Linked DNA regions of Homo sapiens: regions 1, 2, 3, 4 and 5 are each reported to be linked to region 6. The links are microRNA targets in miRTarBase. Many come from high-throughput screens and were not tested one by one. Region 6 holds a microRNA gene; each other region holds the end of a gene's coding sequence.
The links. Region 6 holds the annotated microRNA hsa-miR-6513-5p (UUUGGGAUUGACGCCACAUGUCU, at 1,512-1,534, opposite strand). A microRNA usually pairs through its seed, bases 2 to 8, with sites in the 3' UTR of a target mRNA and lowers its output. Matches are read on the target gene's strand: a 7mer-m8 pairs with bases 2 to 8, a 7mer-A1 pairs with bases 2 to 7 and ends in A, and an 8mer does both.

Region 1: miRTarBase lists FAM151B as a target of hsa-miR-6513-5p. The part of its 3' UTR that is shown has no 7-base or 8-base seed match.
Region 2: miRTarBase lists RRAD as a target of hsa-miR-6513-5p. The part of its 3' UTR that is shown has no 7-base or 8-base seed match.
Region 3: the mRNA of PNMA2 is a reported target of hsa-miR-6513-5p. Seed matches in the 3' UTR shown: 7mer-A1 at 3,665-3,671, 8mer at 3,475-3,482 and 7mer-A1 at 2,227-2,233.
Region 4: miRTarBase lists CLEC17A as a target of hsa-miR-6513-5p. Seed matches in the 3' UTR shown: 7mer-A1 at 3,880-3,886 and 7mer-A1 at 3,739-3,745.
Region 5: miRTarBase lists PCDHA6 as a target of hsa-miR-6513-5p. The part of its 3' UTR that is shown has no 7-base or 8-base seed match.

Annotation. Positions count from the first base shown.
Region 1 is chr5:80,541,215-80,546,286 of GRCh38, reverse strand. FAM151B (family with sequence similarity 151 member B) reads right to left here. Exons shown (of 6, transcript NM_205548.3): 6 at 3,724-4,614. The coding sequence ends at 4,455. Among named protein-coding and RNA genes, the nearest start is that of ANKRD34B, 27 kb to the left of the region's middle.
Region 2 is chr16:66,917,754-66,922,825 of GRCh38, forward strand. RRAD (RRAD, Ras related glycolysis inhibitor and calcium channel regulator) reads right to left here. Exons shown (of 5, transcript NM_004165.3): 5 at 3,932-4,600. The coding sequence ends at 4,323. It overlaps CDH16 (cadherin 16), which reads right to left and starts at 1,132. Exons shown (of 18, transcript NM_004062.4): 1 at 1,051-1,132; 2 at 268-325. The coding sequence starts at 312. RefSeq lists enhancers at 3,889-4,412, 4,413-4,936.
Region 3 is chr8:26,503,520-26,508,591 of GRCh38, forward strand. It overlaps PNMA2 (PNMA family member 2), which reads right to left. Exons shown (of 3, transcript NM_007257.6): 3 at 1,182-5,072. The coding sequence ends at 4,142. Among named protein-coding and RNA genes, the nearest start is that of PNMA2, 7.8 kb to the right of the region's middle.
Region 4 is chr19:14,609,591-14,614,662 of GRCh38, reverse strand. CLEC17A (C-type lectin domain containing 17A) reads right to left here. Exons shown (of 14, transcript NM_001204118.2): 14 at 2,628-4,599. The coding sequence ends at 4,467. It also overlaps a transcript of ADGRE3 not described here. Among named protein-coding and RNA genes, the nearest start is that of SNORA104, 10 kb to the left of the region's middle. RefSeq lists a silencer at 388-437.
Region 5 is chr5:141,009,556-141,014,614 of GRCh38, forward strand. It overlaps PCDHA6 (protocadherin alpha 6), which reads left to right. Exons shown (of 4, transcript NM_018909.4): 4 at 72-2,792. The coding sequence ends at 382. PCDHA1 (protocadherin alpha 1) reads left to right here. Exons shown (of 4, transcript NM_018900.4): 4 at 72-2,792. The coding sequence ends at 382. It overlaps PCDHA2 (protocadherin alpha 2), which reads left to right. Exons shown (of 4, transcript NM_018905.3): 4 at 72-2,792. The coding sequence ends at 382. It overlaps PCDHA3 (protocadherin alpha 3), which reads left to right. Exons shown (of 4, transcript NM_018906.3): 4 at 72-2,792. The coding sequence ends at 382. It also overlaps PCDHA4, PCDHA5, PCDHA7, PCDHA8, PCDHA9 and PCDHA10, and 7 more genes. Among named protein-coding and RNA genes, the nearest start is that of PCDHB1, 39 kb to the right of the region's middle.
Region 6 is chr2:218,278,653-218,283,724 of GRCh38, forward strand. It overlaps MIR6513 (microRNA 6513), which reads right to left and starts at 1,536; the gene lies at 1,473-1,536. The region is part of intron 2 of PNKD (PNKD metallo-beta-lactamase domain containing); the gene reads left to right. It overlaps TMBIM1 (transmembrane BAX inhibitor motif containing 1), which reads right to left. Exons shown (of 12, transcript NM_022152.6): 2 at 3,288-3,529; 3 at 1,374-1,474; 4 at 637-701; 5 at 386-439. The coding sequence starts at 3,489.

The DNA.
Region 1 (5,072 bases), not on the chromosome of region 6:
TGGGCCAGGTACAGTGGCTCATGCCTGTAATCCCAGCACTTTGGGAGGCCAAGGTGGGCAGATCACCTGAGGTCGGGAGTGTGAGATCAGCCTGGCCAACATGGTGAAATCCCATCTCTATCAAAAGTCAAAAAAATTAGCTGGCCATGGTGGCACATGCCTGTAATCCCAGCTACTTGGGAGGCTGAGGCAGAAGAATTGCTTGAACTTGGGAGGTAGAAGTTGCAGTGAGCCGAGATCATTCCACTGCACTCCAGCCTGGGCAACAGAGCGAGATGCTGTATCAAAAAAATAAAAAATTTTAAAAAGTTTCTGCATAGTATTCTATTGCATTTCTGTACATCAAGGCCTTTAAAATATATTGAAAATGGATATATAATTTACATACAGTAAAATGCACAAATATTAAATGTGACAACTCAATAAGTTTTTTGCCTTGCCTATGTACACATCAAAATAACCATTTCCCGGAACAAGATAGAGAACATTTTCAACACCCAAAAAAGTTCCAACATGCTCCATCCCAGACAAAACCCGACAGAACCGTATAGGTTACTACTATTCTGACTTCTAGCACCATGTATTAGTTTTGACTATTATTTAACTTCATATAAATGGATCCAGAGAATATGTATTCATTTGTGCCTTTTTTTTTGCATGATGTTGTTAATAACCTTTATTGTTACATCAGTTCAAACTGTTTTAGTGCTGTGTAGTAATTTCATTGTATGAGTCTACCATTATTTATAAATTCTCTTACTGATGAAAATTGGGGTTGTTTCTAGTTTTTGGCTATTAAGTTTTTATGAACATTCTTTTACAAGTCTTTTAATGTAAATACATGAGCTCTTTTCTCTTGAGTATATGGCTACAGATAGAGTGGCTGGGTCTTAAGGTAGAGATATACTTATCTTTATTAGAAACTGCCAAACTGTTTTCCTTTTTTTCCTAAAAGGTGTTTTTAGTCCTTATAATATTAACCTCTCTGGTGGGTATGTACTGGCATTTATTGTGGCTTAAACTTGTCTTTCCTGAATAAGGAATACTGTTGAGTTCCTTTTCATATTCTTTTGGCCATCTGAATTATTTTTTTTGTGTGAAGTATCTATTCAAGTCTTTTGCCCATTTTTAGTCAGTTTTTTGGGTTTTTTTCTTATAGTTTAAAGGAGTAATATACCCTCTGTCAGATATGTGTCAATGGTGTCTTTTCTGAGAAGTTTTAAGTTTTGATAAAGTCTATTTATCAATGTTTCCTTTTATGGCTAGTGTTTTCTGGGTTACAAGAAACCTATGCCTACCCCAAAGTCCTGAAAACATTCTCCCTTATTCTCTTCTAAATGCATTAAGGTTTTAGCTTTCACATTTTGGCCTAAGATCCATCTCAAATTATTCGTATATGGCATGAGGTAGGGATCAAGGTTATTTTTTTCCATATGGATAGCTATTAAAATTTTACTTTCCAACAGAATACATTTTATAATTCTCTTATGCGTTTTTGTTCCTGAGAACAGTTTAAAATACACCTTTAAATATTAATCTAAGTGAGGCTGCATGCAGTGGCTCACGCCTGTAATACCCGCACTTTGGGAGGCCAAAGCGGACAGATCACATGAGGCCAGGAGTTCCATCCAGACCAGCCTGGCCAACATGGCAAAACCCTGTCTACTAAAAATACAAAAATTAGCCAGGTGTGATGGCACAGTCCTGTAATCCCAGCTACTTGGGAGGCTGAGGGATGAAAATCACTTGAACCTGGGAGGTGGAGGTTGCAGTAAGCCAAGATTGTACCACTGCACTCCAGCCTGGGTGACGGAGTTAGACTCTGTCTCAAAAAAAAAAAAAAAACTAAGTGATATTAGGCTTATAGATTTCTCAATATATAATTTTACCATAATATTAATATTTTAAAAAAATTATCAAAGGTAGGACAATTAAGTAGTAAAAATAATATTCTGGACAAGTGAGTTTTACTTTGAACTTCAACAAAAGGCAGTTTATTTATAAATTCACCTGTCTTTAGTAATGCATGGTCTTTGTAGAAAATTTATAAATTAATTTACTATAATTTAAAAAGTTATTTTCTATAGCAGTTGAAATTTTATAATGAAATTGCACCTTTTGTCTTTGGCAAACAACCATGGATAGTAAAGTTTTAGGTATGATTTGACAAGAAGCATTCCATTTGACTAGAGCTGAATTTTCAAGTGGAAATACTATAATTGTCTTTAAGTATTTATATGTCTACAATGTTTGATGTTGTATCTCTTAGTGCTATCTAGCTATAATGGACATGATCACAGGATAAGTCTAAAAGAAGAGTAACTTTGCTGAGCATTCACTATGTCATTGAGCTAGATATCTCTACTACATGAATCTCACATAATCCTCACAACAACCCTACAAGAGAAATTTTATTCCCCCACCTCCACTTTATAGACAAGTGAGCCTGGAGTCAATGGCATTAAAGATTTCCCAAAGTCTATGGCTAGTAAGGGATAGAGGTGGGGCTGTAAAGAAAATCTGTCTGAATTCAAAACCCAAGATCTTTTCTCTATATAGAACTATGTTATTCTCTGGGAGAAAAATGGTTGATTGACAAAAGGCAAATTACATCTTTTAGGACATTCACTAGTAAATTACTTGTTAATAAATCAAAGCAGCAACATATTTTTCTGGATGTTTTTCTCAGGACTATGCCAGGCACTGTAAAAGATACTTAAGCATGAACCTTTGCCATAAAGGAATTTACAGTCTAGCTGAGGAGACATAGCTAACATGCACGTGTCAATTAGTGAAATAACTAAATAGTTAAGATTAATGGTTAAAGTAGGATCTAGAAACCATTGATGTTGAATAAATTTTTTAAATGAAGAACCGTGCTGGAGCACAACAAACTGACTTTTAGGTGGGACTGCATTATGAAGGGTCTTGAAAGAGGAAAACTGAGTAAAATTGAGTTTAAGCCCTTGAAGGTTTTTGATTTGGCATAAAGAAAGAGGTATTTAAGAAAGTTTTGGCTGGGTGTGGTGGCTCACACCTGCAATCCCAGCACTTTGGGAGGCCGAAGTGGGTGGATCACCTGAAGTCAGGAGTTTGAGACAAGCCTGGCCAACATGGTGAAACCCCATCTCTATTAAAAATACAAACATTAGCTGGGTGTGGTGGCGCACACCTGTAGTCCCAGCTACTTGGGAGGCTGAGACAGGAGAATCACTTGAACTGGGGAGACAGAGATTGCAGTGAGCCAAGATTACACCACTGCACTCCAGCCTGGGCAACAGAGCAAGACTCTGTCTCAAAAAAAAAAAAAAAAAAAAAAAAAAAAAGCCAGGCGTGGTGGCTCACGCCTGTAATCCCAGCACTTTGGGGGCTGAGAAGGGCAGATTATGTGGTCAGGAGATAGAGACCATCCTGGCTAACACAGTGAAACCCCGTCTCTACTAAAAAAATAAAAAATTAGCCGGGCGTGGTGGGGGGGCGCCTGTAGTCCCGGCTACTCAGGAAGCTCAGGCAGGAGAATGGCATGAACCTGGGAGGCAGAGCCTGCAGTGAGCCAAGATCACGCCACTGCACTCCAGCCTGGGTGAGAGAGACAGACTCCATCTCAAAATAATAATAATAATTATTATTATTATAAATAAAAAAAGAAAAGAAAAGAAAGTTTTGTTTAGCAGAAAAACTCAGATCTCTGAGTAGAATGTGAGGAATGAGCCGTGAAAAAAGTAGTTCATAAAGTTTTACTAGTAGAACAAGGACCTGAATGAAGGTGGTGGCAGTAAGAAACTTGGAAAACAAATGATACATAACAAAGACTAAAACTGCTCTCCAACAGTATATTGTCCACTATAAATCAGATACTATAGAAATAAGAAATATAAAAAAAACACTTAGCCACTAGCATGCTTCTCAATCACATGGAAATTCTAGATCTATCTAATTTAATCTACAGTTTCAGGAAATGGATTAATAGATCTTGATATGAGACAGCTGCTGACCCCTGTGAAAATTAAAAACATTTTAAAAGCCCTCTTCCTTTTTTGTTATCTCTAAAATAACCAGTTTTCTAGGAAAAAGGAAAAGAGTACCATATTTTTCATAATCTCTGTAATGCAAGTGCCAAGCACATGTGATTTATACCTGTTTTATGACATATGGATTCTGCCAATCATCTTTAGTTTATCAAAACTATTTTTATGAAGGGGTGCAGAGTATCATTTTCCTGAATTATTATTAGACTAGGCCACGTGTGTAAATAAATCTCTTCTTTCCAAATCTTTTATGTAAGTGCACTATTATAAGGACATATGCCCACAGAGTAAGCATACAATAAACGTTTCTTGATTAGATGACTTGGAACGTCAATCAATAACCATAATTTATATGGTAATTAATTCAGACCAATGGAGAGAAGGATTATGAAACCAAAACACAGGAAATAATTGAGAATCTTCTTCTTAGAGATTAACTTTGATTCCAATGGCTTGTTTAAATTCATGGTTTTGTGGTTCCAAGATGTCATAGAAAACTTGTTTTTTGTCAAAATGGTCTCTAATGTAAAGTAAATCTTCAACGGAATAGTTATCATTTTTTCCAGTCCAAATAGTCAGGCTGTACCTGCATTGAAATAAAACAGAATTATACAGTTAAAAGTGGAAGAAAGCGATGAGTCATTCCAATAAGCCTAAAAATGCTTTCATTTATCTCTAACTCAAATGCACTCAGATGAAAAAATTAATCAGCAATGGTGTAACTGTACTTTCATATTTCATTCTTTCATCAAGAGGGACTAGAGACAAAAAAACATTCATACTGCTGTTGTCTAAACGACATAACTGCTCTATCTGAATTGCAGGACTGTTAAATGGACTAAGAAACCAGATGAGTGGCATGGGAAATGGTTCTAATTTTGGAAAAAGGAATCGAAGAGACTATGTTGCTGATGGAGGAATCTGTAACCTGGGTTTGTTCAGGAGCCTGGTCAGGGTGAAAAGCACAATGGGAAGGGATTGTGAAGAGACACAAATGTCACTGACATCCACAATACTTAGAATCATATACGGAGGCCCTGCTGT
Region 2 (5,072 bases), not on the chromosome of region 6:
GGCTCTATCTTCCTGCGTGGGCACTGAGACCCAACAGAAGAGCGGAATTTCCGCCCCTTCCCAGGGCCTGGCTGTACCTTAGTCCATCCACCCGCGCTCTGGTCTTTGACCTCCTCATCCCACAGTGGCTCTATAGTCCCAGCTCTGACCCCTCCCATGCCTTGCACCGTTCTCACGGTCAGTGCAATTGGTCCAGGTGGAGTTGGGGGCAAGGGTGTCAACCCCCAAAGCCAAGACCTGAAGGAGAGGGGGCAGGGCCTAGCTCACCTGGGGGACGGAGACACAAAGCAGCCACAGCCAGGCAGGGACCATGGTCAGGACAGGCCTGAGGGACACGGCAGTGAGGATCCAGCCCAGGTGGGTAGGGAGGGGCTTTCCATCCCACACACACAACTAGTGGGATCGTACTGCAGACTAGTCTTCTCTTCCTCCCCTCCAAAGGAGCTGAGGCTCTCCATCTCCTGCAGGGTAGTGCCCTGCTCCTCGGCCAGGCCCACCAAGGCCCCCAGGCCCAGCCACCCTGCTTCTAGGCTCTTGGTCCATCAAGCACTCTATCAGAATTTCACCTCCAGACCTCCAGCTCCTTCTCACCATAGCCTCCCCAGGCCGCAGATCCCAAAGTGGTAATTTTCTAGCAATCCCCCAAATCACAAAAGTTTGAAGCTGGAAAGTTCCTGAAGACTTGGAGGGTCACTTCCTGAAGTCACCTCTTGTTGCAGGCAAGGCCTGAATGCTGGGGTCTGGCCAAGGTCACAGAGGACTTGACCACAGGAGGAGTCCTCCTAGCTCAGGGCCTCTGGGACTGTCCTGCCTCCCACTGCCACCTTCTAGACAAGGAGAACCCCCGGAGCAGGAGCCCGGCCCTTGTCTCATCATTTTCCAGCCCTTGTCATGGAGCTGGGCAGGCAGAGCAGCGACAAATCGACAACCCCTCTAAGATGAGGCCCTGGGAATTCTTTCCCAGATGGCGAGGACAGGGCAGTGTTTCTCCTTTCCCCACCACCAACCTCAGCCTCAGCCATGCCCTCCCCTCCACTCCCAGCCCCTCACCCTCCAGCGCCCAAGACTGGCTCCCTTGGTCCAGCTGCCAAGCAAGAAGAGAGCTCCTTCTCCAGGGGGCTCTGGCCAGGCTGGGCTGGGTGGGGCAAGGCAGGGCACTTGAGCAGGTAGGAGGGTTCAGCCACGCTTGCTCAGGAGTGGAAAAGGCCACTGGGCCCACAGCAGCAGGCCTGGCCCCGCCCAGCCCCCCAAGTTACTCATTGACTTTGGAAAGCCAGGAGCTGCTCAGCATCCGTGACTGCCAGCTCCAGGAGGTGGGGAGATGGTTGGCCTGGCACTCCCTCGACCCCAGCACAGCCCAGGAGGTATTCCTTGGCCCTCTGGTTCTGGACGTTACTTTTTCTGTGGCTCCAGACTTGGTCTGACTTATCTCCCAGGCTCCAGTGTCTGCAGCCACACCTTTTCACACTCTGTTCCTTTTGCATGGAACACCCTTCCCACTCATTCATCTGTGTGGTAAGCACCTGCTCATGCATGCTTCAGTGCTCAGCTCAAATATTCCTTTTTCCAGGAAACTTCCCCTATGTTCCCAGGCTTGTTCAGGAGCCTCCTCTGGGAATGCCCCTCCCCCTCACACCATGCCATGTGCTATCTCTATTAATACACAGAGGACACCAGCTTGTCATTGTCTGCCTCTTCCATTAGATTGGGAGCCCTTTGAGAGCAGAACTCAGGGACTCAGGAATGACCTGGCTCTCATTCTGCCCTGGCAGCTCCGCATGGCTTGTGGAACTAAGACAAGGAGCTGGAGGTTGCAAAGGATGGGTGAGCAGTACATGAGTGGAAGTGGGTATTGGGGCTCCAGACCACCCCCCCCAGGGGGACCTGTGGTGGGGGAGTGCAGCAGCCTATGAGCTCCCGAAGTCCTTACACTGGCCACTCAACAGTGACAGGGCTGAGACAGTGGGCAGTCTCATGCCCCTAAGAAGATTAAACTGGCTCAGGTGACCTTGAGGGAGTTGCAGGGCTGAACAGGGGCTCTCCCCGCAATGAGGGCAGCCAAGCAGAGCCAGGAGATGCTTCTGGGGCCTGGGAGTCTGGAATGAGGGGAGAGGGTGGGAAGAAGGTCTCCAGTCCCTCTCCAGCCTTGGAGCTTCCCATGGTCCCCACGAAGTCCTTCCCACTGTACATCTGATTAGTCTCTCTCAGGCCAGAAGCTACCCCCAGCTGCCCCCAGCCTTGTCACAAGCTGAGTGCCTGCTTCAGGGTCACTCTGGCACCCAGCCTGGAGCAGTGTAGTGTGGGGAGGTTGAAGGGGGTTTCACACGTGTTAAGCTCCTGCTCTGTGCCCAGCACTGCTCTGAGCACATACCTTCATTATGCCACATACTGCGTTCTGAAGGGGCATTGGGCACATGCTGGGGCACAGAGAAGCTGAGTGGTTTGCCTAGGGTCACACAGTCAATAAGTGACAGAGCCAGGAAGGCCTGGGGACCCTCACTTGATCTGAAAATACCATGCCTTCTGCATTCCTTGAAGTATGTGGGGAGGAGGGGCAGAGCAGCAACAGCTCTGAGCAGTTACCTCTGCCCTGGGGAGCACGTGGGTGAATCTCAGCGCTCCCCTGTACATGGAGGGGCAGCCCTCAAGCCTCCTCCTGCCATTCAATAAGCTGCAATCAGGATTCTAACCAGGTTGCCAGGGCTCCCTGGAGTCTGTGGAATGAATAAATTGAATAAATTGAACTAAGGAAGGAATGTATGGACCTTGGCCCAGAACCTTCTTAGAAACTGCCCCCCACCTTGCCCCAGGCTGCCTCCAGGCTTTGGAGATGGGCAGACCTGTATACCAGTCCCCACTCAGCCACTTCCCACCCAGCACCAGATGGGGATGGTTTTTCCTGAGACCATGTAGATAAAAACTCTTAGCAGCACTTGTGCCGAGGGTGAGGGAATGAATAAATTGAATAAATTGAACTAAGGAAGGAATGTATGGACCTTGGCCCAGAACCTTCTTAGAAACTGCCCCCCACCTCGCCCCAGGCTGCCTCCAGGCTTTGGAGATGGGCAGACCTGTATACCAGTCCCCACTCAGCCACTTCCCACCCAGCACCAGATGGGGATGGTTTTTCCTGAGACCATGTAGATAAAAACTCTTAGCAGCACTTGTGCCGAGGGTGAGGGAGCCATGGGCATGGGTGGGCAGGGAGACAGGTGCATCCCTAAACATAAGCACGAGTACACCTTCCTATACAAATGCAAGACCTCTCATTCCAGGCAGGGCGGGCTCCCGGCAGCTGTTCCCACCAAAACTGAATTAGCCAATGCTGAGCATGGAATGTTCTGGCCTGGATACTCATGGTAGAGAGAACAGTGAGTGCCTCCTCCGTAGCTCAACCCCAGTGAAGTGGTGGAGGAGCCATGTGGAGCTGTGTGTGCCTTCACAAACCACCCCTCGGAGGTCTCTATCCCCAACCTCAGCTGATTCCAGCCCCTCAAGAGGGAACAGGGCAGAAATACCAGCTGTGGAGCCAGATCCTGTCTGGTTGTGAGACCCAGGGTTCCTGCCTGGTTGTGAGACCCAGGGTTCCTGCCTGGTTGTGAGACCCAGGGCAGAATGTGCTCCCCTGAGCAGCCTGTTTCCCTTTATGGACAGTGAAGTGATTGAACCCTCAATCAGTTGGGCAACGCCAGGCCCCAGTGCAGAAAGAGAAGAATCTGGATAACAGGGACTGGGAGGGGTTTGTGTCTCCTGCTCCTTGAACCTCTAACCAGACCCGATGCCCATCCCAGCTGGCTAAATCTGGACCCTCACATTAACACATCATGGCCACACACTAGGGTGGGGCAGTGAGCCCCCATCCCTCAACTTCAGAAATCCTTCCAGCTCCTGAAGCGCCCAGATAGGAGGAAAGAGAGTCAACAGCCATGACTATCAGGAAATAGCCTTTATTACAAAAATCTGCATGTAAACAAATAGCTACCGCACTGAAGAGCCTCCCTCCAGGGCAGGCACACCCGGGCTGTGAAAAAAGGCAGAGTCCTCTCCCGGCACGCAGGCCTGCCCGGCGGCTGCGCTGCGGCTGCTTGGGACGCATATGAGCCTGCGCATGCATCTCTGTGGGCCCAGCCCTCACTGGCCCCTGAGAGCCACTTCGCAGGGCAGCACTGTCTATCTGTCCATGACCATGAGGTTGGGGGTGCCCGGCTGGCAGCTCCGAGGGACCCAGAGTCTGAGCCTGCTCTGAGGCACCCGGGGCAGTTGGCTGGGCCAGCCCACCAACCCTTCCGTTCGTCTCCCACCATAGTGGGAGCGGGTGGGACCTAGAGAACCGAGAGGTCGTGGCAGGACTTGGATTTGGCGCGAAAGGCCATCTTGCGGCTGTTACGAGCTACGATGCGGCCCAAGAAGCGCTTCGCCTTTTTGCCAAGGCTCTCTCGCCTCCGGGTGCCTGCTTGCCGTCGTGCGTTGGCTTCTTTGCTGTCCCTGCGCAGGCGTATCTGGCGCACGACACCTTCAAACAGCGCCTGGACATTGTGGTGCAATGCCGCTGATGTCTCAATGAACTTGCAGTCAAAGACCACCGCGCAGGCCCGGCCCTCTGTGTGGGTGGGGAAAGGCAGGCACCAGTAAACAAAGGGTGGGTGAATGAGGAGTCCCCTCCAACAGTGGCCACCCATGGAAGCTGCCACTCGAGAATTTGCAAGGTCCTCCCCGAAAACACAGAGACCCCAGCTCCTGTACTGAGGGTACTGGGCACTGCTGCGTCACCCAGTAGGCAGAGTGCCTGCATTTAAGGAGCCCCCAAAACAGTGGCCCTCAAAAGGAGATCCATTTATTGAAATAATTTGAAGCCTGATATTTAAACAAAGTACGACAGTAGTAAACACAGGAAAATGAGAACTATGTTGGACAACTTAGTATTTTATTTTATTTTATTTTATTTTTCTGAGATAGAGTCTCGCTGTCTCCCAGGCTGGAGTGCAGTGGCACAATCTCTGCTCACTGAAAGCTCCGCCTCCCGGGTTCACGCCATTCTCCTGCCTCAGCCTCCCGAGTAGCTGGGACTACAG
Region 3 (5,072 bases), not on the chromosome of region 6:
ATAGCTGGGAAAGGAGAGCAAAGCCGAGAGCTGCTGAGCAAAGTCTTGCATTTAGGATGGGCAGCAGAACCCAAGAGGAGGGGTGGCCTAGTGGACATGGTGGGTGCAGGTGCATGGCAGGTGACACCAAAGGCCTAAAAAGGCAGGAGGCTGATGGCCTCAGTCTTCACCAGACAGCACTGGTGGAAAGTTATCCTCAGCAGTGATTCAAGAATCTTGGGGCCTGTATTTGAGAGTCAGGACTGGAGAAGTATGAAGTATAGGATGAGACCACCCCTTGGAGAGTTTGCTTGGGTGAGTGGGAGATGGCGTTGGGCCCCCTTGGGACATTCCTCTTTAATGGGCTGGTCTGCAGGATGTATGGCCCAGTGAAAGATACTCCCCCATTGCACTTTAGAAAAAAGAAGGAGAAGCAATTTCAAGAAGGCCAAAGGCAAGAGGAATTTCCCCCCATATACCTCCATAGAATAAAAGGTGACTTCAGGCTGGGCACGGTGGCTCATGCCTGTAATCCCAGCACTTTGGGAGGCCAAGACAGGTGGATTACCTGAGGTCAGGAGTTCGAGCCCAACCTGATCAACATAGTGAAACCCTGTCTCTACTAAAAATACAAAAACTTAGCTGGAACGTGGTGGTGCACCCCTGTAATCCCAGCTACTCGGGAAGCTGAGGCATGAGAATCACTTGAAGCTGGTAGGCAGAGTTTGCAGTGAGCCGAGATTGTGCCACTATACTCCAGCCTGGGTGACACCTTGTCTCAAAAAAAAGAAGAAGAAGAAGAAGAAAAAGGGTGACTTCAGCCCAGAAAAGCAATATTCGACCTTCAGGGTCATTCACCCTTGGCAGAATAGAGTCTGGGAATTTATCTGTACAGTTACTTTCCTAAGCAAATGAGCTGGGGGGTCTCTGAGGCAACTGACCTCCATCTGTTGTTTCTGTATATTTTAAAAGAGAAATCGATAATGGGTGGACCGAGCTCTCCCTTGTCCCCAGAGACATAGTTCAAGTATTCTTGTTCAAGCATTTTTTTGCTTTCAGGTTTTCTTGCCTACAGGATTCTAAGACCTTTTGGCTTTAGCTTGATTTTCTCAACTTATCTCTCAAAATTTTTCAGTAACAAAGCTCCTTCTTCAAGCAGTACTTTATAGAGACCACGATATAGGAAACAGAAAAACTCAGGATTTTATTAGCATATATTTATTTTATAACTTCACATTTATAACATTTTACTTTGTATACCGCCAATAAATGACAATGAAACTATTTTCATAAATACAAAAACACATGAAATTAGGGTGTCATGGTAACCACTGCATCACTTTGGTGGAACAGTATTAAAAATAGAATTTAGAAAGATAAATGATCACAAGTGATACCTTTTAAAAAATGCTTTTCTTACAATCTCAGGATATTCTTCAGTTAAACTGAACCACAATCAGAAAAAATAAGTAATTATTTAAAAGTCAAACCTCTAACAATTGTCAACAACTGCTGGAAGAGTCATCACAAATATAAAAAACAACAAGCACTCAAATTTACAATAAGAGATGAAACGGTTTCTAACACCAGGGTAGACTGGAAGTCAACTGGAAGCATATTAGCTTGTTACCACACAACTGTCAGAACAATAAAGAAAGCATGCATTGAGCAGACAGGAACATCGTGAAAATCCTAAGAGCTTCAATGTATTGAGGGCTTTCTGTGTTCCAGATGTCATGCAACGTGCTTAAAAAGCATTAAGTCATTTGTTCATAACAACCGTGTACTCTCATCTTCTTATTTTTCAGATGTGGAAACTGATGTCTAGAGAAGCTAAGCAATTTGCTTACAGTATGCACAAATCTACCACAAGACTACACATCAACTGTGTTGGAGATTTGCCTAGCACATATAACTAAATGGTGCTCATCTGCACTGCACTCACACACTTACGTGATACACAGGTCTGATCTAAATACACAGGTCTGATCTACACAACCATGTGGTGCTACCGCTTTTAAAATCTGTGAACAATTAAAAGAAGTTTGGATACGTACACAGATACCATAAAGGAAACTTTGCTCTAAGGTCTGCACAAAATGAGCCAATCTGAAAATAAAAGTAAACCTGGTGGTGAATGCTGATGTGTTAAAATTTGGTTATCAGCCCATTTGAATCTAGCTGCATTTACTAGAGACTTAAAGAGTTTAGCCCAGGCATGGTGGCTCACACCTGTAATCCCAGCACTTTGGGAGGCCGAGGTGAGTGGATCACTTGAGGTCAGGAGTTCGAGACCAGCCTGGCCAACATGGTGAAACCCCATTTCTACTAAAAATACAAAAATTAGCTGGGCGTGGTGGTGGGTGCCTGTAATCCCAGCTACTCGGGAGGCTGAGGCACGAAATCGCTTGAACCTGGGAGGCGGAGGTTGCAGTGAGCTGAGATTGCACCACTGCACTCCAGCCTGGGTGATAGAGCAAGACTCAGTCTCAAAATAATACTAATAATAATTAAAAAAATAAAGAGTTTAAAACACATTTTGGAGATGGCACTGCTAGAAAATCTGCAGAACTGCAGAGCACAATTTGAAAGTCATCGTGATGGTAGAGGATGGACTAGTGTGAGTCAGAAAGTTCTGGGCTTCTGTCTAGGCTCCATCACTTCTTGGCATTTTGGTGTTGAGGAGACCACTTAACTCATCTGAGCTTCGGTCTTTCTCTTTATAAAGAGCAAAATTATACCACAACAGGGTGGCTGTATACATTCAATGAGATATACATGAAACACTTTGCACACAGTAGGCCCTCAATAAATGTGAGTTCCTTTTCTCTCCTCTTCATCCTTTGTTGCCACTAAAAGCCTTCTCTAAGCAAACCAGCCTGCTCACTAAATCCAAACCTGCCCTAAACAACCCTGCTCTCAAGCATGCAGTCCCCTCATGTCCCCCTTTCTTTGGGGACACCTCTCAGGCTGTGGACCTCTGGAAAGTAAAGCTTAGGTTGAGTCATCTGTGTCTTCAGGGCCTGACACAGCACCTAGCTCTGGGACCATCTATCTGACACCTAGCAGAAAGGCAGGAAGAACACTTCCCAGGTTAAAACAACAACAACAATGACAACAACAACAACAAAAATCTGCAGGCAGAGGTGGTCCTATTCACTGGGTGATGACACTTTTACTGGGGTGATGAACTTATTTACACAAAGGGTTAGTTAGCCTTTTACCTGTCTAGATCAGCTCCTCATCTAGACTGGAACCTCTCTGAGGGCAGGGCCCATTTTGTAGGTTTATAACTGCTCAACTGCAGGTTATAGCTGTAGTCTTGTAACTCCTTGTACAGTGTCTCACAAAGCCAGGCACTCAGAGAGAATTTGCTGATTTGAGAAAGGAAAACACCTGACAAGTCAAACAGCTTTATTTTTCAAACATTACAAAAGGTATTTTTTTTTTTGACTGCCAATTCTTTCTTCTATGGTATGGGCCAATTCTGGTCTATTTGGGATTATTTAAAGAAAATTGGAAGTACAAGTGTTTCAGATTCCTTCAGGCTTACTATTTAATATTTGGAGTTTAATCTTTTGTTCATTAATAATCTACATAGGGTCTAAGAAACTCCTAGATATTTTTTTCTTAAAAAGAAAAATCAAGGGCCAGGCATGGCGGTTCATGCCTGTAATCCCAGCACTTTGGGAGGCCGAGTTGGGCACATCATTTGAGCCTAGGGGTTCCAGACCAGCCTGAGCAACACAGCAAAACCCTGTCTCTACCAAAAATACAAAAGAATAGCTAGGCATGGTGGTGCGTGCCTGTAGTCCCAGGTACTTGGGAGGCTAAGGTGTGAGGATCACCTGAGCCTGAGCCTGGGAAGTCAAGGCTGCAGTGAGCCGAGATTTTTGTGCCACTGCACTCTAGCCTGGGTGATGAGAGTGAGACCCAAGAAATAAAGAAGAAAGAGAAAAAGAAAAAAGGAAGGAAGGAAGGAAAGAGAGGAGAGGAGAGGAGAGAGGAGGAGAGAAGGAGAGAAGGAGGAAGGGAGGGAAGGAAGGAAGGAAGGAAGGTCAATAATTGGCTTTCATGGTTTGATTTCAGTCCCATACATTAAAGAAAAAAATTTTTTAAAGGTCTTAGCCCACTGGCTGTGGGTCCTGCCCCCAGGTGGTTTTCAGTCGTCTCCCTCATGATTCCAGCGGCCATAGCCATCTCGTTCCTCTGGCTCTTCGATACTCTCATTCTCAAAGGAGGCCTCTTCCTCCTCTTCTTCCCGTATTACCTTCATTAGCTCAAGGAAGCTGGGGGGCGGGCCCTGATCCTTCAGCTCCCTAAGCCGGCACCACAGCATCTGGTTAAGAGTGGCCCCAGCCATGACCTGCTCCAGGCGGACCTGGTCCGCAATACGCCGAGGGATGGCGCGTTTCTCCACCGCTCTCCGGAGCAGGGTTTCTAGCCGTAACACATAGGCTGAGACCTTCTCTCCTTCCTCCTGATAGGTCTTCAGATACCTCACCTGGGCTGTCCTGCGGCTCTCTAGGCTCCCAAACACTTGCTTAAAGGCCTCCAAACACTCTTCTACACTGATGGACGGGTTGTCTGCCTGCACTATGTGCATGAGGTCCAGGGCAGGGCCCCGCAGGCTTTCCGCCAGCCACCTTTTCTTTTCTGCCTCTGTTACTGGCCACTCTTTGACTATCTCCGTGGCCTGTTCCAACCAGACCTCAAAGGACTCTTCCTCTGGGGCTGGGACAGCACTCCCTGAGAATACTCGCAGTTTCCGGTATCTCATGGGTAGCAGGGGCTGAGGCGCATGTGCCATTGCCTGTCCCAACAAATGGGCCAGTAATTCTGGTGAGATGCAGGGCACTGTGGCTGGAGACACGCCCTCCTGCCCCAGGGCTCGAAACATACCCGAGACCGTCTGCCCCTCTTTTTCTAGAAACAGGTTCAATCTTTCAAGAAACTCAGTGTCCTGATTAGGGGTCTTAAAGATCACCTTCCAGACACCCCCCTTTCCCTGGACCTCACTGGGAATGGCCGAGACATCAGTATCTTCCAGAAGCTCTAGTAAGACAGCATTGGCATTCTCCTGCTTCCGGAAT
Region 4 (5,072 bases), not on the chromosome of region 6:
AAAGGTTGCAGTGAGCCGAGATCACACCACTGCACTCCAGCCTGGGAGACAGAGTGAGACTCTGCCCAAAAAAAAAAAAAGATTGGCGGGCGTTGGTAAATATTCCAACCTCACAAAGTCATGGTGAAGATTCAATGAGAGCCACTGCATTTATTTACCACACAATATATGTTTGATAAACCATGGTTATTATTTTTATCCAACTGTTGCTCCCCTGGACCTAAAGTGGTAAAAAGTGACCTCTTTCATATTTACCTCTCTGCAATTAGATAATCATGAGAGATGTGGAAGGGAGATAGGTTGGGACCAGTTCCACCAGGGGCCTCCTAGAGACGTGACCACAGACCCCTGCTTCCCCATTTCTCAATACGCATATCAGAAAACAACTTCCCTCTTCTGAAATGTGGGAACTTCCCCTGACCCCAGATAAAGTTGCTTGACATAACAGTCCCCTGGGTGGAGGGTTTACAACACGACACCCACCCACTCAGCAGGCTGCGGACAGTACAGGAGCTGGCTTTGGTAGTGATGCATCAGGGCAGCTGCAGAGGTGGGCAGAGGTGAGAAGAGAGGACAGACAGAACCAAAACTCAGTAGTGGGGTCGTGCCTGTGAAATGCCACTGCACTCCAGCCTGGGCCACGTCCTGAGAACCCATCTCTTAAAAATAAATAACGAGGCTGGGTGCAGTGGCTCACACCTGTAATCCCAGCACTTTGAGAGGCCAAGGCGGGTGGATCACTTGAGGTCAGGAGTTCGAGACCAGCCTGGCCAAAGTGGCGAAATGCCGTCTCTACTAATAATACAAAAATTAGCCGGATGTGGTGGCGCACACCTGTAATCCCAGCTACTCAGGAGGCTGAGGCACAAGAATCGCTTGTACCCAGGAGGAGGAGGTTGCAGTGAGCCGAGATCATGCCACTGTACTCCAGCCTGGGTGACAGAGTGACACTCCATCTCAAAAAAAATTTTTTTAATAACGAAATAAAAGAACAAGTAGATTTAAAACAAATCAAAGAAACAGGAAGTGAAATCAGCTCCGACCTCTCCCACCACCTGCTCTCCTCACAGTCTCCTTGCTATAAGCACCTGTTCTCAGACAAAACAGGAAAGATTCTGCTATTGATTAAGGGAGCTTATTGATCAATAAATTGATCGCAATCCTTGTATTTTAGGAGGCTGAAGCAGGAGGATTGTTTGAGACCAGGAGTTTAAGCCCAGTCTGGGCAACAAAGCAAGACCCCTGTCTATACAAAAAAAAAAAAAAATTAAAATTAGCTGGGTGTGGTGGGGGCACACCTGTAGTTCTAGTTATACAGGAGTCTGAGGACGGAGGATTTCTTGAGCTCAGGTGTTTGAGGCTTCAGTGAGCTATGATTACAACACTGCACTCCAGCCTGGGCGACAGAGTGAGACCTTGTCTCAAAAAATAAAATAAGGCCAGGCATGGTGGCTCACGCCTGTAATCTTAGCACTTTAGGGGGCTGAGGTGGGCGGATCACTTGAGGTCAGGAGTTCGAGACCAGCCTGGCCAACATGGCAAAGCCCTGTCTCTACTAAAAATACAAAAATTAGCCAGGCATGGTGGCACGTGCCTGAAATCCCAGCTATTCAGGAGGCTGAGGCAGAAGAACCAGTTAAACCTGGAAAGCAGAGGTTGCAGTGAGCCGAGATCACGCCGCTGCACTCCAGCCTGGGCAACAGAGCAAGACTCTGTCACAAAAAAAAAAAAAATAAATTGATTGGTTTGGAGAATGTCTACCCACCCTTGGATGCAATTCAGGGATTGTCCAAAGGGAATACTATGTTGAGTTATGCCTAGCTGGGAGTAGTACCAGCCCTCTAATTGGTATTTTTTGGTTGTCACATGGCCAGGGCAGGAGGGTCGGGTGGGGGTCACTCTGGCAGTTTGTGAATGTTATGGGCCAAATTGTGCCACCCCTCCCAAATGCATATGTTTAAATTCTAATTCCCAGGACCTCCTAATATGGCTGTATTTGGAGACAGGATCTTTAAAGTGGTCGTTGTAGGCCCAGCACAGTGGCTCATGCCTGTAATCCCAGCACTTTGGGGGACCAAGGTGGGCAGATTGCTTGAGCCTAGGAGTTCAAAACCAGTCTGGGCAACATGGTGAAACCCCGTTGCTACAAAAAATACAAGAATTAACCAGGCACGGTGGTGCACACCTGTAATCCCAGCTACTCAGGAGGCTGAGGCGGGAGGATGCTTAAGCCTGGGAGGTGGAAGTTGCAGTGAGCTGAGATCACACCACTGCACTCCAGCCTGAGTGACAGAGCGAGACCCTGTCTCAAAAACAAAAGAAGAGGAGGAGGAGATTAGGACCCAGACACACAGAAGGAGAACCAGGTGAAGACACAGGGAGAAGAGGATCATCTACAAGCCAAGACAGGAGGCCTCAGAAGAAATTAACCCTGCCAACACCTTGATCTTGGACATCCAGCCTCCGGAACTGTGAGAAAATGCATTCTGTTGCTGAAGCCACCCAGTCCTTTGTTATGGCAGCCCCAGCAAACTAACACACAGTAGACAAGGAACACCCAACATAGTGGCATTTTGAGAAGCACTAACATTGCAAGAGCTAATAGCCCAGGAAAGTCCACACAGAAGTAAAGTGAATTTTTATTTTTATTTATTTATTTGAGATGGAGTCTTGCTCTGTCACCCAGGCTGGAGTGCAGTGGCACAATCTCGGCTCACTGCAACCTCCGCCTCCTGGGTTCAAGCAATTCTCGTGCCTTAGTCTCCTGAGTAGCTGGGATTACAGGCACATGCCACCACGCCCAGCTAATTTTTTTGTATTTTTAGTAGAGATAGGATTTTACCATGTTGGCCAGGCTGGTCTCGAAATCCTGACCCCAGGTGATCAGCCCACCTCAGTCTCCCAGAGTGCTGGGATTACAGGCGTGAGCCACTGTGCCTGGCAAGTAAAGTGAATTATATCATCAAAGACGTTACAACCCACAGATAGCTCAAGGGCACGTGCTGGCAGATAGGTCCATCGTTGTCCTGTGTGGATATGACCAGGTTATGGCCTGCCTGGCCACACTATGTAGGGGTCTTGCTTTTCAGCTGGTATGCCTTTCTAGAAGTTCCATGGGCCAGCCAGGTGTGAGGGTGAACGCCTGTAGTCCCAGCTACTTGGGAGGCTGAGGCAGGAGGATCACTCGAGCCCAGGAGGCAGAGGGTGCAGTAAGCTATGATTGTGCCACTGCACTCCAGCCTGGGTAGTAGAATGAAACCCTATCTCAAAAAAAAAAAAAAAAAAAAAAAAGGATAGAAGTTCCACGGGCCAAGTCTTCTGGCAAAAGTCTGATTCTGCCACTTAGCTTGTGCAAACCTCACCCAAGACATTGAGAAAGTTGCTGGTCAAAAATAATTTTGATGGTTTCTGGGTTATTTGTGCTGTTTGAGACCAGGAAGGAAGCAGTGTCTGGAGAGGACGACATGGGGTGAATATAGAAGCTCTCCTGTCTTCTCCGCTGATGTTCTGTATTTTTAGGTTTGTAATTTGCAATGATGTGGGGACTACATGAGACCAGCCCACTTAATGTATTTCTGTGCGAGGCAGATCTAGAGGTCTAGCTCAAAGGGAAATTTTTCTGTCACCACTTTCAAAGCTTTTGTTTGGAAAAAAAAAAAAAAGGAAAAGATGGGGAAAGTAAAAATAAAAATAAAAATATCGGCCAGGTACGGTGACACATGCCTGTAATCCCAGCACTTTGGGAGGCCATCACGGAAGGATTGCTTGACCCCAGGAGTTTGAGACCAGCCTCGGCAACAGAGTGAGACCTCATCTCTATAAAAATAATAATAATAATTTTGAGCCAGGCACAGTGGCTCACACCTGTAATCCTCACAATTTGGGAAGCCCAAGTAGGAGGATCCATTGAGGCAAGGAGTTTGAGACTGGCCTGGGCAACATAGTGAGACTCCCTCTCTTTAAATGCTACAAAAAATTGGCCAGGCATGGTGGTGCGCATGTGTAGTCCCAGCTACTCAGGAGGCTGAGATGGGAGGATCACCTGAGCCCAGAAGTTTGAGGCTGCAGGAAAAGGAGCCCAGTCCCAGCTCTTTGTGGTTCACAGGCGCCAGGATATTTCATCCCAGGTTCAACACCAGCCCCAGGGTCCTCAGGGCTAGTATCACTTCCCAAGAGTCATGATCAGGAACTTAGTGAAGATCCTTTCAACCCCAGAAGTGGGAGACCTCCCACCACCAAGCTCTGAGCATCCTCCCAGCTCACCATCTACTAGGGCAAGCCCAAGTCCTCACTCTAGAAACAGCCTGACTTGCACCCCTGGGAACTTGCTGCATCCAGGGTGCCAATCCTGTTTGAGGCACATCTGTGTGTCCACTCACGAAGAGGCAAGGCCGTCCACGAAAGGGCAGGAGATTCTCATCTCAAAGAGACACTCAGATATGGACCCCCAGCCTCGGCCCTGGGCTTCAACAGGAACATTTCCGCTCACAAATCCAATACGTAGTTTTGTAGCAAGAGAGATCATTCCAGGTGCCACCTTTGTTCATGGTAGCACAGTCCTCATCGTGGATGTTATTGGGTTCCTCTGGCTCCCAGAAGCTGGATGGAGGAAAAAGTGGGCAGAGGGACAGGGATCTTTAGGGTGGTGAAACTCTTCTGTATAATACTGTAATGATGAATACCTGGCACTACGCATTTGGCAAAACCCATATTAGGCCGTGTGTGGAGCCTTACACCTGTAAGCCGGGCACAGTGAGCCACCGTGCCTGGCCCTTAATCAATTTCTGGTTTTGGGGGGTTTTTTGTTTTGTTTTGTTTTGTTTTGGAGACAGAGTCTCACTCTGTCGCTGAGGCTGGAGTGCAGTGGCGTGATCTCGGCTCACTGCAACCTCTGTCTCCTGGGTTCAAGCAATTCTCCTGCCTCAGCCTCCCAAGTAGCTGGGATTACAGGTGTCCACCACCACACCCGGCTAGTTTTTATATTTTTAGTAGAGACGGGGTTTCACCATGTTGGCCAGGCTGGTCTTGAACTCCTGACCTCAAGTGATCCGCCCGCCTCAGCCTCCCAAAGT
Region 5 (5,059 bases), not on the chromosome of region 6:
ACTCTACCAGCAGTGTGGCATCAAGAGCATGTGTTGACCCTGTTAATGATTTGTAATGTTTTGTCTTTCAGAACCAGAGGCAGGAGAAGTGTCCCCTCCAGTCGGTGCGGGTGTCAACAGCAACAGCTGGACCTTTAAATACGGACCAGGCAACCCCAAACAATCCGGTCCCGGTGAGTTGCCCGACAAATTCATTATCCCAGGATCTCCTGCAATCATCTCCATCCGGCAGGAGCCTACTAACAGCCAAATTGACAAAAGTGACTTCATAACCTTCGGCAAAAAGGAGGAGACCAAGAAAAAGAAGAAAAAGAAGAAGGGTAACAAGACCCAGGAGAAAAAAGAGAAAGGGAACAGCACGACTGACAACAGTGACCAGTGAGGTCCTCAAATGGAAACAAGCCACTTAGCCAGTTTTTGTAATAATGGCAAATCTCTCCCATGTAGCAATTCCCTGCTCCTTTTTCCTATCTACATGAGCCCTCTTAGAGACCTCAGAAATCTGCAGAAAGTTCCCTGTGTCTGTCTAGAACGCATTTAACAGGTTTTGTCGTAAAAGCTTTACTAAGTCTGGTGTTAACTCTTTCTCTCCACTCTGGCTTGTTTTCAGAACCTAAAAAGCAGACCCAAGTTTCCTTTCTCCTCCGCCGCAAAGGAGAGGCTTCCCAGCCCCGCCAGTGAGAGGTTGGACTCTCTGCCCTGTGCTCCGGGGATCCTGTCTTGATGACACTTGCAGGGCAGGCTGAAAAGTTTTGAGATTGAGCAGCTTGGGAGTTTGTGGCCACTGGGTATGTGTGGCTACCGCGGGTATGCGAGTGCCAGATATTGGCTGAGACGAGCCAGCTTAGACTAATTGGTACAAGGAAGGCAAGAAAACAAAGACAAATAAACAGCGGAAGTTATCAGTATGGAGGGGAAGTGTAAACTTAAAGGGACCAGACTTTCTAAATCTTACAACTCAAGAGGTGGCAGCCACCCTCTAGGAGACAAAACTACCCCCACTGACAAGGCTTTAGGAGACCCTAAAGTCTGTTGGCTGTGACGTCATTATACCTAAAATCTGCATCATACCTGCAAGCCAACAGTTCAGTGTTTTAACAGAGAACCACCCTGGGAAACAGAAGCAGATCTGATGTGTTTCCTATACATGTCCTGTGCTCACTTTATTAAAAATTCTTTTGCACACAATGTTTATGAAAAGGCCAGATCCTTTTCCAATACTTATGCAAAAGCAAAAGAAAACCCCGACACCTCACCTTTCGCTGTTTGTTGTTTCATAGATTTATTTAAAAAAAGAGAAAGTCTATAGCTATAAATCTTTAAAGAGAAATATGAATACAATTCCCCTAAACTCTCCTCAAAAGAGAATTCAGTCTACAGCCATTTAAATGATCATTGCTGCTACAGAAGTGCTTTAAGAGAATTGCCTGAAACATCTGTATTATATCGGCCACCTGCCAATCACAGCTTTACTCTTTCAGGTCACTCTGGGGCTGCCTCTTGCATGTATTACTAAATAAAATGATCTCTCTTTCTCTCTCTCTCTCTCTTTTCTAAGAAACAATTATGTGCACTTTGATACACAACCTTCTCTAACCAACTATATATCAAGACCCAAAAATTGAAGAAAAATATTGTTTTCTCATACAGTGAGCAGATTTTTCAATCTACTAATTCTGTGACTTGTCTTGGTGTGCTAGCCTACACCTTCTCTTTGGTTTAGTTTTCCTTTTCTATAACACTCTGAATTGCTAATCTTACTAACACCTATGATGTTACCTGAAATCAATCTCCCATATGTATGCTGTATGCTATGCTAAGACTCCTGAAATATACTTACTCTGTGCTTGTGTATGTGAATGTTAATGCAACTATTACCTAGAGTGAACTTTAAGCTTTATTGTTGAATGTAATTCCATTATATTTCCTTTTGTACACCTGTGAAAAAGTGGAGTAGTGTTTTTTTAACCATTGTTAATCAGCTTTTGTGTATGAAAGACACAGTAAAATTTCTTTCTTAAATCAAGATACTGGTGATTCAAGGAATTTTATTTATGGTCCAGCCAAGAGCCATCTCGTGCCAAGACTTCTGCTGGCAAGGGAATGGATAAAGCTGTTTTGTTCTAGTAACAATTTTGGAATGAATACTGACAATATTCCATGAGGGTGTGCAAGCACAAATTTTACCAATCTGACCTCTTTGAAGTTGCAGAATGCTTTGAAATTCTAATGGTATCTGAAATATCAGCTCATAGAAAGTAACAAAATTTGCTGTCACCTTAAATAAGACATTTTAATTTTGTTATAATGTACAATTTAGAAGTTTGATTAATTATATTATCTATTTAGGCATTAATATAAAAGAGGTAGGAGTCTGTTATTTAAAAAAAGCATTAAATTTAAAAAAAAACTGTCTTGTCTACTTTTAGCTTCATTCTCCCATATTTTGAAGGGTGTGTAACTTCAGCTCTGCAGGATTGCATGGGGTAAAACTTGTTACCAACACATGTGAACCATTGCTACATTGTAGGTTGTGATCATTTTGCCCCACTGAAGCCCATGTATCTGACCTTACGTGCCTTTTGAACTAGGAGAATCGGGCTAATTTATTAATGATGATAATTATAATGTATCTGTACAGCACTTTTTACATTTGCGAAGTGCTTTCCAATCCATGTTAGTTACTAGTTATTACAGCTGTAAGGATAAAACACGTCATGTGGATTCATTTTGAATTGGTGCTATTGGTATTTCCTCTGTTATTGCTAATAAATGAAAATGGTGGTATGAAAGAAATGGTGGTCATTTCTAAGAATAGGAGGAAATAGAACACTGATAAGCAATTAATACTGAAGAAGATTGCTGCAGTATGAAACTCACTGTAACACTCTCTTATCACGTTAGCTTTTATGTCCATTACTAAGGCAAAAGCCCCAGTGGAATCAAGATTCAAACTTCATATCATTAGAATGGGCAGCCAGGAGGTTGCTGCGTCACTTTGTAGTTACACTATTTCAGTTTTCTCTAATAAGAATTGCAACAAACCCATTTTTATCACAAGAGCCCTTCTAGGCATCTTTTTCATTACTTGTTTAGCCCTTGCACCTCTCTACAATTGGAAAGCCAAGTGACACCCCAAAGAAATGAACTTTTAGGTCAGGGATAGTGGCTCTTGCCTGTAATCTCAGAACTTTGGAAGGCCAAGGCCAGAGGATGGCTTGAGGCCAGGAGTTCAAGATCAGCCTGGGCAGCATAGCGAGATCCCATCTGTACAAAAAGAAATAACTTTTATTGAGTACAGGGTGTATGCCAGCCACACTACTGCATAGGTTCAGCTGTGACAAATAGATTGTTTTGTCCTTTTGTAGTTAAATTTGTATAAATATAAGCTTTAGATGCTGTAGGTTCTCAGTTAGGAGCAATTTTGCCCTCCTGGGGACATTTGGCAACGTCTGAAGTCATTGTTGCTTTTCATTACTTGAAGTGGAGGGTGCTATTGGCATCTACTGGGTAGGGGGCAACGATGCTGTGAAACACCTGGCAATGCACAGGACAGCCCCCTATAACAAAGGATCTTACAGCCCAACATGTCAATGTCTCAAATCAAGATTGAGAAACCTTGAGATAGAGTGACCATATAATTTGTGTAGTCCACTTTTGAAATGGAACAGGAGACACCATTCGTTATTACTTCAGGATTCAAGATGTAAACTGGGACTGTCCCAGGCTAACTGGGATTTATAGGGACTCTATAAATAAACTGGTATAGCTGTGCCACTAACTAGATGGGGAATTTGAGGCAAACCACTACTTCTCTCAGTTTTTCAGTCATCTCTAAACTGGTCATAATTATAATACAGACCTTATAGATTTGTGAGGTAATCTTAAAAGGTTTTAGCAGGTCTGGCACACCATAGTACTCAATAAATATTATTATTTATTAATCCTTTTCTTCCATTTCCTTACCCCCTTTTCAGAGATTTAGCTATTAGACCCAGGGAACTTTTCCTACTGACTAAAATGTGAATGAGGGATGGCCAAAAAAATCAACATAGTCTTGGCAATAAAAATATTTTATTTACTCCTCCGCTCTTTTGCTCACCCCAGGAGGAAAAGAAATAAAGTCAGTTTCATAACTCCTTACCTATTTCTATCATAATAATAATCAAATCCCTAAGTAGTCAAGTGGCCAGTCTGTTTGCAGCTATTTCACCTCAATTATTGGTGATCTGAAAGCCAGAAACCAAAGGGTTTGAAGTACAACAGCTTGAGAGAGAAAGAGAAGAGTCACCTCCAACAACTTCTTTCGGCAGATGAGCAAAACAGAAATGCCAAATTACCCACAGACTTGCCTGGGATTTCACAGGCAATAAAGGACAAGACAGGTGCATCTCTCTCAAGGGTCAGGCTACTTGATATAAGTCTCACATATACAGAGTGCAGGATTCATTCTTTAGAAATATTGCAATTGATCTAATTTTAAAGGATGAGATTCTCCAATGAGTGTCTAGAGCCTTGGCTTTGAATTTTAGGCTCCTAGGTAAGATTGTAAGTGCCAGGATCTCATGTTAATGTATTTTACGTTTAAATTATAAACATTATGTTTGTTATAAACCCCAATCTAAAGTACAAATGTAACTGACCAAACACTAATGCAATTTTACTGTTAAATCTAGATTTAAAAACCATGCAAACATTAAGAGATACAATAAAACAAGTAAACAAACAAAACTACAGATACAGTTCCTCAAGACTTTCAGTCCCTGGAGCTTTTCCAGGAAATGGAAATGGAAATAAGTTGGCCACTCTTTGACCTATTTCATCATATTTTCATGTGCTTCCTTTCCTTGTAGAAAAAGCTGATTATGTTATTTCCCTCAAAATTACCTTGACTGTTGGCTGGCAGGACACAACTTGCAACCTGAGAAATTTCTTCTGGCTTTATGCACACACACACACACACGCGCACACACACACGCGTGCGCACAGTCATACGTGCACACACGCGTGCACACACATGCACACGCACACATGCTGACACACATGCACATGCACAGAG
Region 6 (5,072 bases):
AGCCGTTTGGAAGTCTGAGGGGAAGCAACTCAACAGGAAGCAAGAACGAGATTACCCCCAGCCAGGGTCACTGAGATGCTCTGAAGCACCAGGCTCCGGCCAGGAAGGAGGTCTGGGGAGGCTGCAGCTGACGGGCTGAGAGGACATGGGGGCTGCAGCGCAGCGTGCACGCCACCACCAGCAGGTCCCACTCTTGCTCTCGAGTTCTAGGGGTCTGCTACTCATCTGGGCACGCACACCCACACCCTCTGGCACGGGAAACTGGCACCAACTTGGGGGCCCTCTCAAAAAGCATTTTGATCCTGCCCTGAGCAAAGCTGGTCACCTAGAAACAGAAGCTGCCACCCCTGCCTCCCTGCCCAACCACAGAGGAGCACACACTCACTAGGACACGTAGTAGACAGCCACATTTCTCCTCACAAAGGCGCTGACAGGTTCCCTGTGGGGCACAGGAGGACAGGAGTAGTCACCCTGAGGCTTGTCTGCCCCACCCAGGCCAGCCAGGCAGCCCTGGCTTCACCTTCTCTAATTGCCCATGGTCACCCTGAGAGCAGGGCCCACCGCCACCCACACCCCCAGCAGGTGACCCTGAACCCCCAGGGCAGTAGGAGTGGGTGGCAAAGCCTAGAGACTTACACAAAGGTGAAGATAGCAATGATGGCCACAGTGATGAGCAGCTGCACGGAGATGATGGAGTAAACCTGGACACAGACGGCCGGGCATGGGTCACCATCCGGCACCCCTGGCCTGCCCCAGGAAGCTGCCAGCCCCCAGTACTTTCCTCCCACTCAAGAACCCTCCCTAGCTGCAGCCTGGCCCAGAGGCGACCCCAGTGAGATGCCTGGCTCAGAGGCAATGTGCACTTCTTCCTCAGCCCCGCTCCCATGCTCCCTGCCATCTCCCCTCCTGTCCAACACCAGCCTCGGTGACTACTGACTTGCCCTGCCTGGCCACCATACTCTACCAGTATGGCCTCTGCACTCCCAGCAGCTCAGTCTGCACGCTCTATGCAGCTGTGAGATGGAGAGGGTGGGTTACAAGCGAGTAGGATCATTTCTGGCTCCAAGCTGCCTATAGTCTAAAGGGAGAAAGATGTCTGGGGAAGGCGGGCGCTGTGGCAGAACCCACCTAGGAGATTCTCCCAGACTGAATGTGTCCTCCCAAAACATGGTCAAGAAGAGAGGTGCAAAAAGAGAGGGAACCCTGGGGTTAGAGAAGCCAGGTGCCCCTCTGAGAAGCAGACAAGGCTAGAGAAGACAGGCAGCCAGTGTATTTCATGGAATTGATGCCCTGGGGCTACTGTGGCCTACCCACTTCCCATTCCCACAGCCTGAGGGGCCCCAGGTACACCCACCTCCCAGCGCGTATCTTACCTTTCGGATAAAAGTGTGTCGCACTTTCCGGTCATCCCACTCTCCAGGCCCGAAGCTATCACTCACTGCTCTCTCCTCCCCATCATAGCCATGGCCTGGGCCTAGGGACAGATGACACTTGACTCAGCTGGGGACCTGAGACATGTGGCGTCAATCCCAAAGCCTCCCTGACAATCTCAAAGTCTCAGGGATCTCCAGCCAAAAGACAAGTGTTATAACAGGAACTCTTCTCCCAAGCTGGGGTCTTCTAGACACCCTCAGAGTGACCCAGAGCCGGCCTGTCACGAGGGGGCTTAGGTGGGAAACGTTCCTCACGTGCATCTGTGGAGGGCTCCTGTGTGCCCAGCCCACGCCACTGGGGGTTCACTGGGGGGTCACGATGTAGTGGGGAAGCCAGGCAGGAGCAGGTATGGGCATCCACTGGGGCAGCCAGCCAGGGCAGAACAGGGGATGGGGACAGAGGGTAGGAGAAAAGGAGGGCGGCAGAGCGCAGTTTGTGCAGCAGCAGGGATAGAGGTGAAGACAGGGATCTGCATCAGCCTCACAGAGGCAGGTGTGCAAAGGGTGTGCGTGACTGTGCAGGACCCATGCGCAGATCCGCACCAGCGCACATGTCCAGGTGAGAGCTGGCTGACACCCCTCTGGGGTTCAGAGATGCTGCAGGGCTGCAAACATTCCCTGAATGCCTGAATGCCTGAATGCCTCTTTGGGAACTACTTTTAAAATCCACGCTTGAGCCACCCAGGAAGACTCACTGCACTCTAACTTCACCTCATTTCCTTTTTTTTTTTTTTTTTTTTTTTGAGATGGAGTTTCGGTCTTGTTGCCCAAGCTGGAGTGCAAAGGCGTGATCTCGGCTCACCGCAACCTCCACCTCCCGGGTTCAAGCAATTCTCCTGCCTTAGCCTCCTGAGTAGCTGGGATTACAGACGCATGCCACCACGCCCGGCTCATTTTTTGTATTTTTGGTAGAGACAGGGTTTCACCATGTTGGCCAGGCTGGTCTCAAACTCGTGATCCGCCCATCTCAGCCTCCCAAAGTGTTGAGATTACAGGCATGAGCCACCGTACCCGGCCTCTTTTTTTGTTTTGTTTTGTTTTTTGTTTTTTTTTTGGTTTTTTTTTTGAGACAGAGTCTTGCTCTGTTGCTCAGGCTGAAGTGCAGTAGTGCGATCCTGGCTCACTGCAACCTCCACCTCCTGGGATTGCAAGCGATTCTCCTGCCTCAGCCTCCTGAGTAGCTGGGATTACAGGTGCACGCCACCACACCCGGCTAAGTTTTTGTATTTTTAGTGGAGATGGGGTTTTGCCATGTTGGCCAGGCTGGTCTCGAATTCCTGACCTCAGGTGATCTGCTCGCCTCAGCCTCCCAGAGTGCTGGGATTACAGGCGTGAGCCACCGCGGCCGGCCTCACCTCATTTCTGACCAAACACAAGCATGTCCCTGCCATGATGTTTACCAAACTTGGCTCCAAATGTCTTTTGCAAAAGTCAGATTTCACTTTAAAGGATGAGGAAAGTGGTTCAGGTTCCCAAAGGAGTTCCTAAGGAAGTCGACAGGTCTGGGAGGTGGCAGCAGCTTGTTGGCCGCTTGTTGGGAAACAGAGCTGGTGCCCTGAGGTAACCCCTCAGGAGTCATTACTTGGCCCAGCCCCATTCTCCTGTGGTGTGTACGTTCTGGGACATGCCTCATGGATCTCCTTGAACAAAGGGGGCAGCAAGTGGCTGGGGGCCAGTTGCTGAGGCAAAAAGTGGAGGGTAACAAAGACAGAAACAGAGGGAGAGATCTCAACAGAGAAGATGAGAAAGGGATTTAAGGGAAACTAGAAGAGAAAAGGGGCAGGAGGCGGTGGCCTCATCTGCTCCAAGTGCTGTCCCTCCCACCCACCTTCCATCTGCCCTTCCAGGACTCACCGTAGTTCATGGGCATCGGGTGGGTGGGGGGCATGGGCTGTGGGTAGCCAGCAGGGTGACCGTAGCCAGGCTGCGGGTAGCCAGGGTAGGCAGGATACCCTCCTGGCAGGACAGATGGCTGCCCATAGCCCCCAGGGGGCGGAGGGCCTGGGTACAGGGGGTTGCGGTCTTCATATGGTGGTGGGGCGCTGGGGTTGGACATGGCTGCTCACGGGCTGAGGGGGAACCCCAGCTGCTGGGACCTGAAATGGGAGAGGAGAAAAGCAATCGTGAATGCCCAGGCCCAGCTCACTCAGCCTCATGGGCCCACTTCCAGCCTTGTCCAGGCTGCCTCCGTGGAGAGGAACACCACCTATTTTCTCCTTAGAGGGCAGCGTGTGATTTGCTGTCCACAGGCCACCTCCCCACCAACTGGGCTCCTGTCCCTCCTGCCTTTGCGCCTGCTTCTTGTCCACAGGCCTCTCACTGTGCAGCTCCCCAGCCATAGGAAAGCAGGAGGAAGGATTCGCTGAGGAGAGAGGGAACCAGGGAGCCTGGGAACTCCCTGTTGTGGTTTAAGAAAACCTTCCAGTTTTGGTGGCTTGATGGCAGAACCAGCGAAGAAGCCAGATGGGCCAGGCACAGCCTCCTGGCGACTCACAGGGCCAGCTGGGACCCTCTGAAAGGGTCAGCTCTGCCCCTGCCACAGCTGACGGGGATGCCAGGCCTGGAAGCCAGAGCTGGGTTGGAGCCAAGGCTCAAAGTGGAGAGCCGGGGGAAGAAGTGGAGGAAAACAAGCTAGCCCCAGTGCCAGAGCTGCCAGGCCCCGAGGAGGAAGGGATCCAGGGACCCGGGGGCCAGTGGCAGGCTGAGTCAGGAAGCCTGAGAAGCAGGAGTGGGTGGTACAGGGGCTGGGGGCAGGGAGGCTGTGCCAAAGGGCCAGCTTGAGACAGGACTTTCTGGTTCCTTCAAATAACAGCGGTGGCGTGTCAGAAAGGCATGCGGCAGCCTGCGACCACAGCTGCTCTCTGGCCTTGCTAGGGAAGAGAGAGTGAGTGCACGGCCCCTCGCCCTCCCCCTTACCCCCACCCTGGAGGGGGAGACAGATGTTCTGAATCCCAGGCTCTCTGTGAGTTCTACCTGTCTTCCAGGTGCAGTGCTAGCAGGGAGGACAAAGAGCTGAGGAGTCAGGCCACAAGGTCAAGGGAATGCCTTCCCTGCAGCAGGAAGAGCCCCATAGCCAGGGGAGGGCCAAGAAACCAGGGGGAGGGAACCCCAAACTGGAGTTGGAAGGGACCTCAGGGCCATAAGCCCCAAATGCTCACTTCAGATGAGAGAATGCAGGCCCTGAACAGGGAAGTGATTCCCCAGAACCCCAGAACTCGCAGGTCAGTGGCATAACCAGGACGGAGGCCTTCCAGATCCTGGGTCCAGGTCCTTCATGTTATGCGGTGCTCTTATGCCTCCTCTGCCAGTTACTGTCCTCTGGGCCTGGTGGTCCCCTCTGAGGTAGCAGAGATGCAGGCTTAGGAGGAGCTAAGGAAGCCCCTAGAGGGCCCCTGCATCCCCAGTAAGGACAAGCCCTGGCAGTCTGGGCTCGACAGGGCCACCACCTCTTCTAGAGCATCTACAGGGGGCTTTAGGATCCCCAAGGAGGACACCCCCAGATGCAGGTCAGCAGACACCAGAGGCTCTCAGAGGCTCTGCTGGAAGCAAGAGAGACCAGCGTCTCTTTTTAGGGCACATTGCATAGTTCGGGGATCAAATAAAGGACTGTCTTATCTCTTCTCTTTTATGACAACTGGG